Regions from separate parts of the Homo sapiens genome. Here region 1 is linked to region 2. Evidence: fine-mapped expression QTL. A gene starts in region 2. The other region holds a variant in brackets. All regions are shown on one strand. Distances are between the middles of the regions.

What was found. PIP is the estimated chance that this variant, and not a neighbour inherited with it, causes the effect.
Region 1: its variant is fine-mapped to the expression of GPR52 in monocytes (BLUEPRINT, PIP 0.95).

The regions. Positions count from the first base shown.
Region 1 is chr1:175,309,589-175,314,973 of GRCh38, forward strand. The region is part of intron 1 of LOC105371623 (a long non-coding RNA gene); the gene reads left to right. Among named protein-coding and RNA genes, the nearest start is that of KIAA0040, 120 kb to the left of the region's middle. The variant T/TCA (reference allele first, on the strand shown) is at 3,033.
Region 2 is chr1:174,444,725-174,450,109 of GRCh38, forward strand. It overlaps GPR52 (G protein-coupled receptor 52), which reads left to right and starts at 3,240. Exons shown (of 1, transcript NM_005684.5): 1 at 3,240-4,821. The coding sequence starts at 3,388. The coding sequence ends at 4,473. All of the region lies in intron 13 of RABGAP1L (RAB GTPase activating protein 1 like), which reads left to right.

The sequences.
Region 1 (5,385 bases), 860 kb after region 2:
AGGCTCTAATAGGAGAGACCTGTTTGGGGATGCTTCACTGGCTCTCGATCTGAAAGAAGACCCTGTGATAAACAGGATCATGACGGAGAGCAGCATACCTCCTTTAGCACCAAGAGGTGAACTTCGAATTGTCCTTCTTTGCTGTGAGCTCTGTGGTAAGGTCCACCCTTGCAGGAAGGGACTTTATCAGCGTTTCTTGAGAGACTGAACTGATCTGTCTGTCTGGCCAAGAGAAGTAGATGTGAGGACCATTGATGCCAGTCACATTCACATGTTGACCCGATCCCAGGTGACCTTCACAACTAACATGCCATTACAGAGACCTACTGTGGTGACTACATTTGTTTAAAACAAAACTGGACCATGTAGCCCAACAGTCATGGCCAGGACAATTGGAAAGAAAAATCAGCATTGAAACATCTCTGAAAAAGCTAGAGGTGAACATCTGCCCCCACCCTCCCCTGCCCCTAGTCGCTTCCTTTCTGTGTACTGGATTTCTTATCTGGGAGGATGAATTGGGTAAAGGGGTTTAGCTGAGGGTGTTTTCCTCTGCCACAAGCTGAGACTACAGCTGGTTAGCCCTTTGCTTTCCCTAACATCATGGAACACTCCCTTAGGCATGCGACTTAGATATTCACATTCTCCTGGGGAGCTTGGGTGGTGATACTGCCCTTCCTTGCTCTGTTGACTGCAATCCTGGACCTGAATATCATTCTTAGGTAGAATTGTGGCACAAAATCTTCTCTTCCTTCTATCTTTAGTGCCTAATTACCCTGTATTTCTTTCTTCTTAAGAAACCTTTAGGACATATGAGATTGTGAGGTATTTGGGGATCTTAAACAATCGATACCATTTATTATTGTCCATCAGGTGAAGCAACAGAGCCAAAGGTCTAATTTACAAGTGACTCTTGGTTTGAAATCTAAATGATTCCTAGGGAGCCATGACAAACTGAACCATTGTAAGACAAACTCTCATTTTCTGTAAGTGTCATTTTATCAATTCCACTTTCTACCTTGGAATCTAATCTCATACCACAAAAATACCCAGAGTAATTCCGACAAAATGAAACTAAAATAAAACACAGATATAAGCTTTTCAAACATTTATAAACTATATAAAGACAAATTCAATAGAAAAGCTATAACAATGTTCCATTTGGGCGATCCTTTTGTCTTTTGGGCTGAAATGAACCAGCCTGAAGCTTTTTGAAATTTGCTTCCATGAAGTCTGGATTGAAGTTATCTCTTCTTTCTGTGATAAATCTCCCTGTAACAGTGGCTCTCAACTGAGGGTGATTTTTTTTCCCCCAGAGGACATTTGGCAATGTCTGGAGACATTTTTGGTTGTTACAACATGGTGGGAGGCGGGGGTCCTACTGGAATTTAGTGGGTAAAAGCACAGGGCAGGTCCCTAAAACAAAGAATTATCTGACCAAAATGTCAATAGTACTGCTGTATTGAAACACTGCTTTGTAGCGTGGACATTTCAAACCGAGTTAACATTAGGTCATTTCGTTGAAAGATAAAACCAGATTTATGTGAATATGTCTCAATTTCTTTAAATGGTACTGGTTGGGGGTTGGGGAGGATAGGAGGGCAGGCCGTTCCACATTGACTTCTTTAATCATCTCTTGCTTTTCCAAGTCAATAAATCAACTGGGTTACCTTTAATTGCAACCCAGGTTGTTATTGTTGTTGCCAATCGTTTCAGTGTAGCTTTGGTTGTAAATACAAGCTTTGGTTATTACTTTGTGGTTTTTATTTGTGGGGGGAGAAATCATAAACAGTGAGTGGGCTCACAAATCAAGCCAGGTATTACCGGCATGCAGGCATAATATATGCGTTCCTCAGTTTTCATTGTTTATCTTGGATCTTTAAATTTCCTGTACAGCTAGCATACTGAATTTTCATAATTGCTACTGCATTTCTTATAATTTACACATATTTGCCAGAAACCTCTGAAGAGCTTGTTGTTTGTCATGAAGAGCACAGCTGTGAATGAATGCCTAGCAGTGATCTCTGATGATAGCAATTTTTATTTAAAGCATTAAAGGGCATCAACATCTAAAAGTTGATCCATACCTTCCACTGGCCCCTGGCCCCTGCCCCCGGGGAAAATTCTACAGTAATCAGTTTCTTTTTAGAAGGTTCTGTCAACTTTTTGGATTCAAGAGCCTCCTTAATTGCCACTTTTCTTAGTGTTAGAAGTGTTTGAAATGTGTCTGAGTTTTAAAAAAATATTGTCAGTGTTGAAATGACAACGCTCATCTAATTAACTGAGTTTTTTCACTGTGTATCTCTTTCCATTTTCTCATGAACACATAAACATAAGTTTGGAAATTTTACTTTATTCTATTTTAAAAACTTTGAAGCAAGGAGCCTTACATATGTGTGAAATATCTGAATAAGAGAGTAGGGAGTTTGGTAAAAACTGGTGGAAAAGGAAAGAGTCAAAAAGAGAATAAATGTCTGGCCGTCGGGCCATGGATTGCTGAATCTCTTTCTAGAGAATGACTTCCCCACCAGCAGGAACGTCTCTGGGAAAGGAACCACATCTGGTTTGTTTACTGCCTTGCAACTGTGTGATGGTTTATTTTATGTGTCAACTTGACTGCACCACAGGGTGCCCCGATTAAACATTATTTCTGGGTGTGTCTGCAAAGGTGTTTTTGGATGAGATTGGCATTTGAATTGGAGCACTGAGTAAAGTAGATTGCTCTGCCTAATGTGAGTGGGCATCGTCCAATCCATTGAGGACCTGAATAGAACAAAAAGGCTGAGGATAGAGGAATTTGCCTTTTGTTTTCTTTCTGCCCACCTATTAAGCTGAAATGTTGTCCTTCTTTAATGATTTGAGTGGGATTTACAACAGTGGCTTTTCTAATTCTCAGGCCTTTGGAATTGGACTGAATTGTACGACCAGGTGTCTTGAGTCTGTGGCTTGCAGACAGCAGACTGTGGGACTTCTTAGTCTCCATAATCACATAAGTCATTTCCTCATAAGTCTCTCTCTCTCTCTCTCTCTCTCTC[T/TCA]CACACACACACACACACACACACACACACACACACACACACACACGCAAACATAATGTAAATCCCCTATTGGTTCTGTTTCTCTGGAGAATCCTGACTGATACATACTGGTATTAAAGTTTAAATAAAAGAATTTTTTTTAACTGTGAAAAAGAGAGAGACAGAGAGAGACCAAATCTCTTCTGGGAGAAGCAGAGGGTGTGCAGGCCTTTCATCTTTTTGTATATCCAGAATCAGTATTGGATCTGGTATATAGTAGGTAACTATTGAATGTGGATGGTGAGATGAGTGAAGAGGAACAAGAGACTCGTTTATGTGTAGCTTTACAAGTCCAACGCATACTCTTTTTATAATTATTTGAAAGACTGGGCAATGGGGAATATTGTACATGTCACATGAGTGGAAAGATACAGGCCCAGAGGGCCCTAATTTGTGGTGATGTCTTATTGCTGACTGGCAAAGGGGTCACTGCTAAAGCACACATCCCCAGGGACACTGGGGGTATTACGGGCAAGAAGATGCTACTGGGTAATTGCACTGATTACTAATGTTGCTAACATTTCTCTTGCTTAATAATCCACTTTTAATATTACCCCTGGCAGTTCTTCGTTCCCATAACACAACAATAATTAAATTTGTGTTCAGTTGGTTGTAAATGCACCCAGAGGTCTTAAGCAATGGGTGAATTATACCCATTTAAGTTAGAACATAATGCTAGCATTCAGCAACCTCAGGAATAAATACTAATTACTAAAGTTCCTTTAAGTTTCACTGTATCACATTAGTTTCCATTTTCATTTTCAAGACAACGTACAGGACAAATGACAGGTTTTTATCTCAATATTACAGCAGTCACTCCTCCAGTCCCATAATCCTGAGCTATAGGTTTCCAGAATGGCTTATTTAAAACAGGACCAGGAAATGTGGCTGTTTTTAAAGGGCCACCTTGGTCTGACATTCCAGAATTTTTTTTTTTTTTAGGAAATGAGGAGAAAAAGAGGAAATGCGGCACAGGGCAAGGGCTAGGAAAGGTGCTTTGCCTGCTCTGTTTGCGAGGGTGCCTTCTATGGTAGATGGCCATGTGGCTGGAGTTTTGTCCCTGTTTTACACATGGCCCCAGGGGTGTGAAGAAGCCTGCTGGTGTCAAGCCTTTTTAAAAATTTATTTCCAGGGTTGGGATTCTGTTCCTTCTTTAAAGCACTCATTATTTCTCCCTTTTAACATGGAAGATGGAGAAAGGTCTCTCCTTTGTGGTCTTGGGTCTTCACAATGCCCAGTCTGTTCCTGGCTCTGTTATTGAACTTCAAGCAAACATGAGTACTAAACCACACCTGGCCCCGTTCCAGCAGGCTCTGCCGTTTCATGCCCCCGACCCTGGTTCATGAGGCTCCCTCCCACCTCTTTTTTTTCCCTTGGATAATTTCTGTTGTCATACTACCTCCCCCAGACAGGCTCCTAATATCCCCCTGCCCACTCCAGCATGGGAGAGCATGTCTGGGTTTGCGGTGCTTACCCTACACCGTTACTCAGTTATCTCTGCACTTCCTGACTGCCTGTGCTCCTGGAACTGGACTGGAAGAAGCTCCCATCACGACTCTCTTTTTGGGGCTGTTCCCTGACTGGGGTCTTACTTAATGTAACCCAGTGGTGAGAGTTGATCTTATATTATGCACTGGGTCCATTTTTAAGGGACAGAAAGGGAAAAGGTTTTTCCAAGTGACCAAAGCTGAGAGGCAGTGGCTAATGGTGCATTAGCTGGAGCTGCTCCCAGGCAGAGCAACAGAACCTGGCAGTGGAGGAGCTGACGGAGTGGAGGGCAGGCTGGCTCAGCACACCGGGCCTGTCAAATGTTCTCTGGCAGTACCCACAGATGGCACTAGAGCCTTGGGGATCAGACCACCCCTGGGCACTTCAGGGTTGAGGGAGCCAGGAGACGAGACTGGAAGGAGGTAGGCAGTGAGTCACCGTCTCTGTGGCTGATCAAGGACTCAAAACTGTACAAAAGGCCTGTCTGGTAATGCTAGGGCAGCAGAGACCACCACCCGTTGGTGACCTTTTCTGATGGTAAAAGCAAAGGGTGAGATGAAATTGGTGTTTTTACCTGAAAAGGCTGTTAAAGGTTAAAATGACAAAATAAAATTCAGAGGGTTTGGAGGATTTGGTGTTTACGATTCCTCAAAGTGGGTGGAAGGTAGGGAAGAAAGAGAAAGGAAGAGAGAGAGAAAGATGCAAAGAGAGAGAGAAAGATGCAAAGAGAGGAGAGAAGCAGGAGAGTAGAAGAGAGGAGAGAAGCAGGAGAGTAGAAAAGAGGAGAGAAGAAGGAGGGAAGAATGAGGAAGGGGGCTGAGATATT
Region 2 (5,385 bases):
GCATATATATTTTTCACAAGTCTCCAATGATCCTTTGTATTTCTGTGGAGTCAATTGTAATGTCTTTTCATCTTTGATTTTATTTATTTGAGTCTTCTTTCTTTTTTGCTTAGTCTAGCTAAGGGTTTGTTGATTTTGTTTATCTTTTCAAAAAATCAAGTTTTTGTTTTGTTGATCTTTTTATGTTTTTTAGGACTTTTAAGAATAATAATAACCTATTTCGGTCCCATTTTCACAAGTCTGTGATTATAGGCAAGTTATACTTACTATCTCTACTATCTGCTTTCTTCATTTGGAAAATGATAATGATGATACCTACTTCATAGAGTTTTAAGATTTTTATAAAGGAAAAGTATATAATGCACACAGCACAATGCTTGGCATATAGAAAATACTCAACAAATGTTAGTTATCTTCCATTTTTATCTTAATTTTCCTGGTGTATTTTAATTCTGACATAATTTGTAAATTAGTTCTAAGTCACTTTTAAGAAAAATGCTGATCCCCTAAGAAGTTTAAAATAGTGAATGTTTGTCTGTAGTAAGTCAAAATAATCAGAAATGTTTTAATGTCCATCAAATATTTGATTAAATTAATTTGCATTGTTCTAATTTAGGTATGTGTAGCTCAAGCACTTAGAACAAATTTCTTTGACCATTTGACCTTTTTTTTCATATTAGGATAAAAAGTGGATAAGCAATGTTTTTATTTATTCTAATTTCTATGCTCTTTTGAGATCATATTTGACCTTCAGTATTGCTCTGAATAGATTTTGGTACAGTAGTGTTAGTTCTATTGCTTTGTTTGTACAGTTAAATACATCAAACTCAGCAATTTTTTGTGGGGGTGATGGGGATTGGAGAGATTAGTAAATGATTTCTAAGTTCTGTTAATTAAAATGTAACTATATATTTTAGAGAGAAGTTAGTAGTCATATCACTTTAGTTCATGAAGACTTGGCAAATTTTTAATAATTAATAAGTTTTTTCTGCCAATGAGCATTAGATTACTGCTGACTTTTTAGTGTCATAGTACCTTGTGGTAGTTTCTTTACAGGGTTTACAGGAGTATGGCAGTTTATTTTTTCTGTCTTGTCCATACGAAATAATCTTTACAAATGCTATAAGGAGAATACCTTGAGAAGTTCATAAATGCCTTAATATATTATAAAGATCGGTCAGTTCCATTGTCTTCTTTTGTCAGTCTTGATCGGAGCTTGCCGAGTAAGTCTATAAGCCTGCATGTGCCTGGCAACTGTTACCTAGTGACAGTTTCAGCTGCAGTAGCCATTGGCTGTGCTGTTGATTGGGGCAGGAGGGCCGAGTCACCTTTCTGATGGTGAGTTTTTCTGCATCAGCCCAGGATGAGGAGGAGGAGTAGGGCTTGGGCTCAGGTGGAGTCATTGATGCTGAGAGATTGTGAAGAATATACTGACAGCATCCTTGTAGCTGCATCACAGTAAATCGGACTTCTGAATCAAGCAGCCCAGCCTAGCAGCTGATAAGAGTGAATGTAGGTGAGAAGCATTACCTTATTCCTGTAACAAGAGAACTGTTTTGTGATAAGTGAAACTAGGAATGTAGAAGAAGAAATATCCTATGGCTATTATAAAAGAAGAAGGACTTGCCTGAATGACTTGGTGGTGCACCAGAAAATAACTTTCAGAAGAATGCTTTCTGTTAAGCTGCTGCATTGTTCCTGGAGGAAATGTTATTTCTAATGCATGTTATTTCTTCAAAAGATAGGATAACAAAGAATGACAGGAGACTCTCTGAAATGACTTCACTTTTAAAAAATACTTTGGCAAATGTTAACCTGATATCAAAATGACCTTGGAAGCATTTTGGATGGATTCTATCCTGGCAGCCTTGCAATGTTTCAAACTCTAGGATTTAAAGTTCATCTTGATACTTTAGAGGTATTTTAAAATAAGACTATCTTGCAACCTACCTAATGGCCCCTGTGTTAATTGAGCACTTGCTCAAAATAGAGTACAGAAAAATAGAAGAGGCATTTTTTAACATATGGCTGCTACATAACTGCAAATGTAATAAACAAGGTAATTTTCCACTTTCAGAAGATATAGTTGAAGTAATGATTTAATGTGTTAAATCATCTACTGAAAATAGAAAAGGTATAGCAACATAGAACATGAAGCCTATTAGAAATACCTAAGTAATAAATAATGGCAGCATTTCTGGTCAAATAAGCTCGGAGTATATTGGAAAGTTTTATTGTCTAACTTTATATTTACATATATATGTGAGATATGGGTATACAGTTGCAAAGGTGAGAAATAACTGTGAGCTACATATTTTATTATCATGCTCCATTATAAGGAAGGTGGTATATGAAATAACAAATGTTATTTTAAGTTATAGATGCCAAATTAATAGCAAAAATAATTCATTTTGAAAAGGAAGAGGTATAAGTTACGTTGCTGTTAGTACCACCAGTAACTGTAATGGATTAAAACTGCTTTCATCTAAATGCTTTAAAAATGCATGCAGAATTAAAACTTCAGAAGTTTATTACATTTTGCCAGGTGTTAATTCATTAATTCATTGTATATTCTCTTTTCTATTGGAAAATACTTTTTTCTCATGAGAGTTATAGGGCAATCTGGAGTCTGTTTGTTACCTCTATTCTGCCCATGTAGAGATGAATCTTTTCAAATTAACTTTGATAGAGTTGTTTTTCTTAGATTTTAGAAAAATGAGAAATAGGTTATAAATTTGACCCCCCAACATCAATCCCTGAACTAAGCCCAAAGACACTCTTTGCCACAATGAACTTTTTCTTAGCTTTTCAACCAAATTTGAGATCTTAAATTATTTAAAATCTAAAATATGAATGCATTTTTCATCATAGATAAAGCAGGAAGCCTGAGACAGTTTCAGAGTTTTTCTTTTCTCATTCTTTCCAGTTGCTCCCTAAGAAACTGCCTCTCTTAGGAGAACAGCCCACAGAAGCTTTTCTTCCTTTGGCAATTCATTTTTTTTCTTTTTACAGATTTAATTTTTCATAGTGCAAGATAATAAGAAGTCTATTTTCTCTAGAAGTGCCTTATGTCTGCAAAAAGTTCTTTGAGGGCACCAGAGGAAACTAATTAGTGACCTCTTTTCACCTCCTTTCTAGCTTATCCCCTTCTCTCCACCCCTTACCGCCCCCCCCCCACCCCCCCGCCCGAAAGCTGAGGTGTGTCACTGCTGAACTGAGGCTGGTGAAGAGACTTGAGCACTCTCTGGGACTCTCAGCTGTGACAGAAGCACTGACACTGTCTACTGAAGCAGGTTCTGAAACACTCATGTGCGGTGTTTAACAGATGCTGGGCAGGGCATCTGCTTGCTGTAGCCAAGTCTGCAGGTGTCTTTAAATTTCCAAGCCATGAATGAATCCAGGTGGACTGAATGGAGGATCCTGAACATGAGCAGTGGCATTGTGAATGTGTCCGAGCGTCACTCCTGCCCACTTGGATTTGGCCACTACAGTGTGGTGGATGTCTGCATCTTCGAGACAGTGGTTATTGTGTTGCTGACATTTCTGATCATTGCTGGGAATCTAACAGTTATCTTTGTCTTTCATTGTGCTCCACTGTTACATCATTATACTACCAGCTATTTCATTCAGACGATGGCATATGCTGATCTTTTCGTTGGAGTTAGCTGCTTGGTTCCTACTCTGTCACTTCTCCACTACTCCACAGGTGTCCACGAGTCATTGACTTGCCAGGTTTTTGGATATATCATCTCAGTTCTAAAAAGTGTTTCTATGGCATGTCTTGCTTGCATCAGTGTGGATCGTTATCTTGCAATAACCAAGCCTCTTTCCTACAATCAACTGGTCACCCCTTGTCGCTTGAGAATTTGCATTATTTTGATCTGGATCTACTCCTGCCTAATTTTCTTGCCTTCCTTTTTTGGCTGGGGGAAACCTGGTTACCATGGTGACATTTTTGAATGGTGTGCCACGTCTTGGCTCACCAGTGCCTATTTTACTGGCTTTATTGTTTGTTTACTTTATGCTCCTGCTGCCTTTGTTGTCTGCTTCACTTACTTCCACATTTTCAAAATTTGCCGTCAGCACACCAAAGAGATAAATGACCGAAGAGCCCGATTCCCTAGTCATGAGGTAGATTCTTCCAGAGAGACTGGACACAGCCCTGACCGTCGCTACGCCATGGTTTTGTTTAGGATAACCAGTGTATTTTATATGCTGTGGCTCCCCTATATAATTTACTTTCTTCTAGAAAGCTCCCGGGTCTTGGACAATCCAACTCTGTCCTTCTTAACAACCTGGCTTGCAATAAGTAATAGTTTTTGTAACTGTGTAATATACAGCCTCTCCAACAGCGTTTTCCGGCTAGGCCTCCGAAGACTGTCTGAGACAATGTGCACATCCTGTATGTGTGTGAAGGATCAGGAAGCACAAGAACCCAAACCTAGGAAACGGGCTAATTCTTGCTCCATTTGAAGAGAGCTACATAGTAAATCAAATGTAATCTGACAGTGGTTTTGGATCATATTCTAGATTCATCTGGAAATTTGCCATCAGAGAAATATTTACTTGAATAGTTGACTGTAAAATGAAGTATGAGACTAAAGGTTTCTCTCTTTTTTTTTCTTTTTCATGGAAGAAACTAAAGGGAAGGATGTATAGAGGGTTAGCTCATGAAATAATTATAGCATGTGAGTATTAGTGTGCAGTAATAGGAAAAATTAAGCACTGAGATGAAAAAGAATATCTCAAATCTTCTGCAGGACATGAGCAAGCCCCTTGGCTCAGCATTTCTGTCTTTCTGTCTGACTGTACCCTGCCTCTGTCTTTCTCATTTTGTCTATGTTTCTCTCACTCTTTGTGGAAGTTATTACTTACATAAACTGCCCTTTGTAGAAAAGTGCTACATATTATATATGTGGTAAAGTATAATCTTTTGCATCAAAGTGTACCTTTAATCACACTAATCTATAATCCATAAGTGATCTCTTCATGGAGGATGCACAGTAAGCATTGCATTTTATTATTTGCCAAACAACCCCTTTGCTTGTGTTTTTATAATGTTCTCTGCAGCACAGTTTTTCTGCTATAAACAAATAGAAACAGTATTTTTGTTTCTTCTGGGTAAAATGACATTTGCTTTTCCCTGGTTTCCTAACAGTCTCCTGTTTTTTTTCTCTCTTTTTCTTGATCTGCATCCATTGGTACCTTACTTTAGAAGTGTCTTAGCTATTGAAAGAATCTACTGTATAGAGCATCCATGATGTTAAATAATGTATTTCTTCCAGCAAAGCAATCTGGTAGCTTATTAAATATTTTTAATGGCTTTTGGAAACATTTTTATCTGGTTCCTTTTAAATTAGTTCATGTGCTTAAAAGTGATGTCTT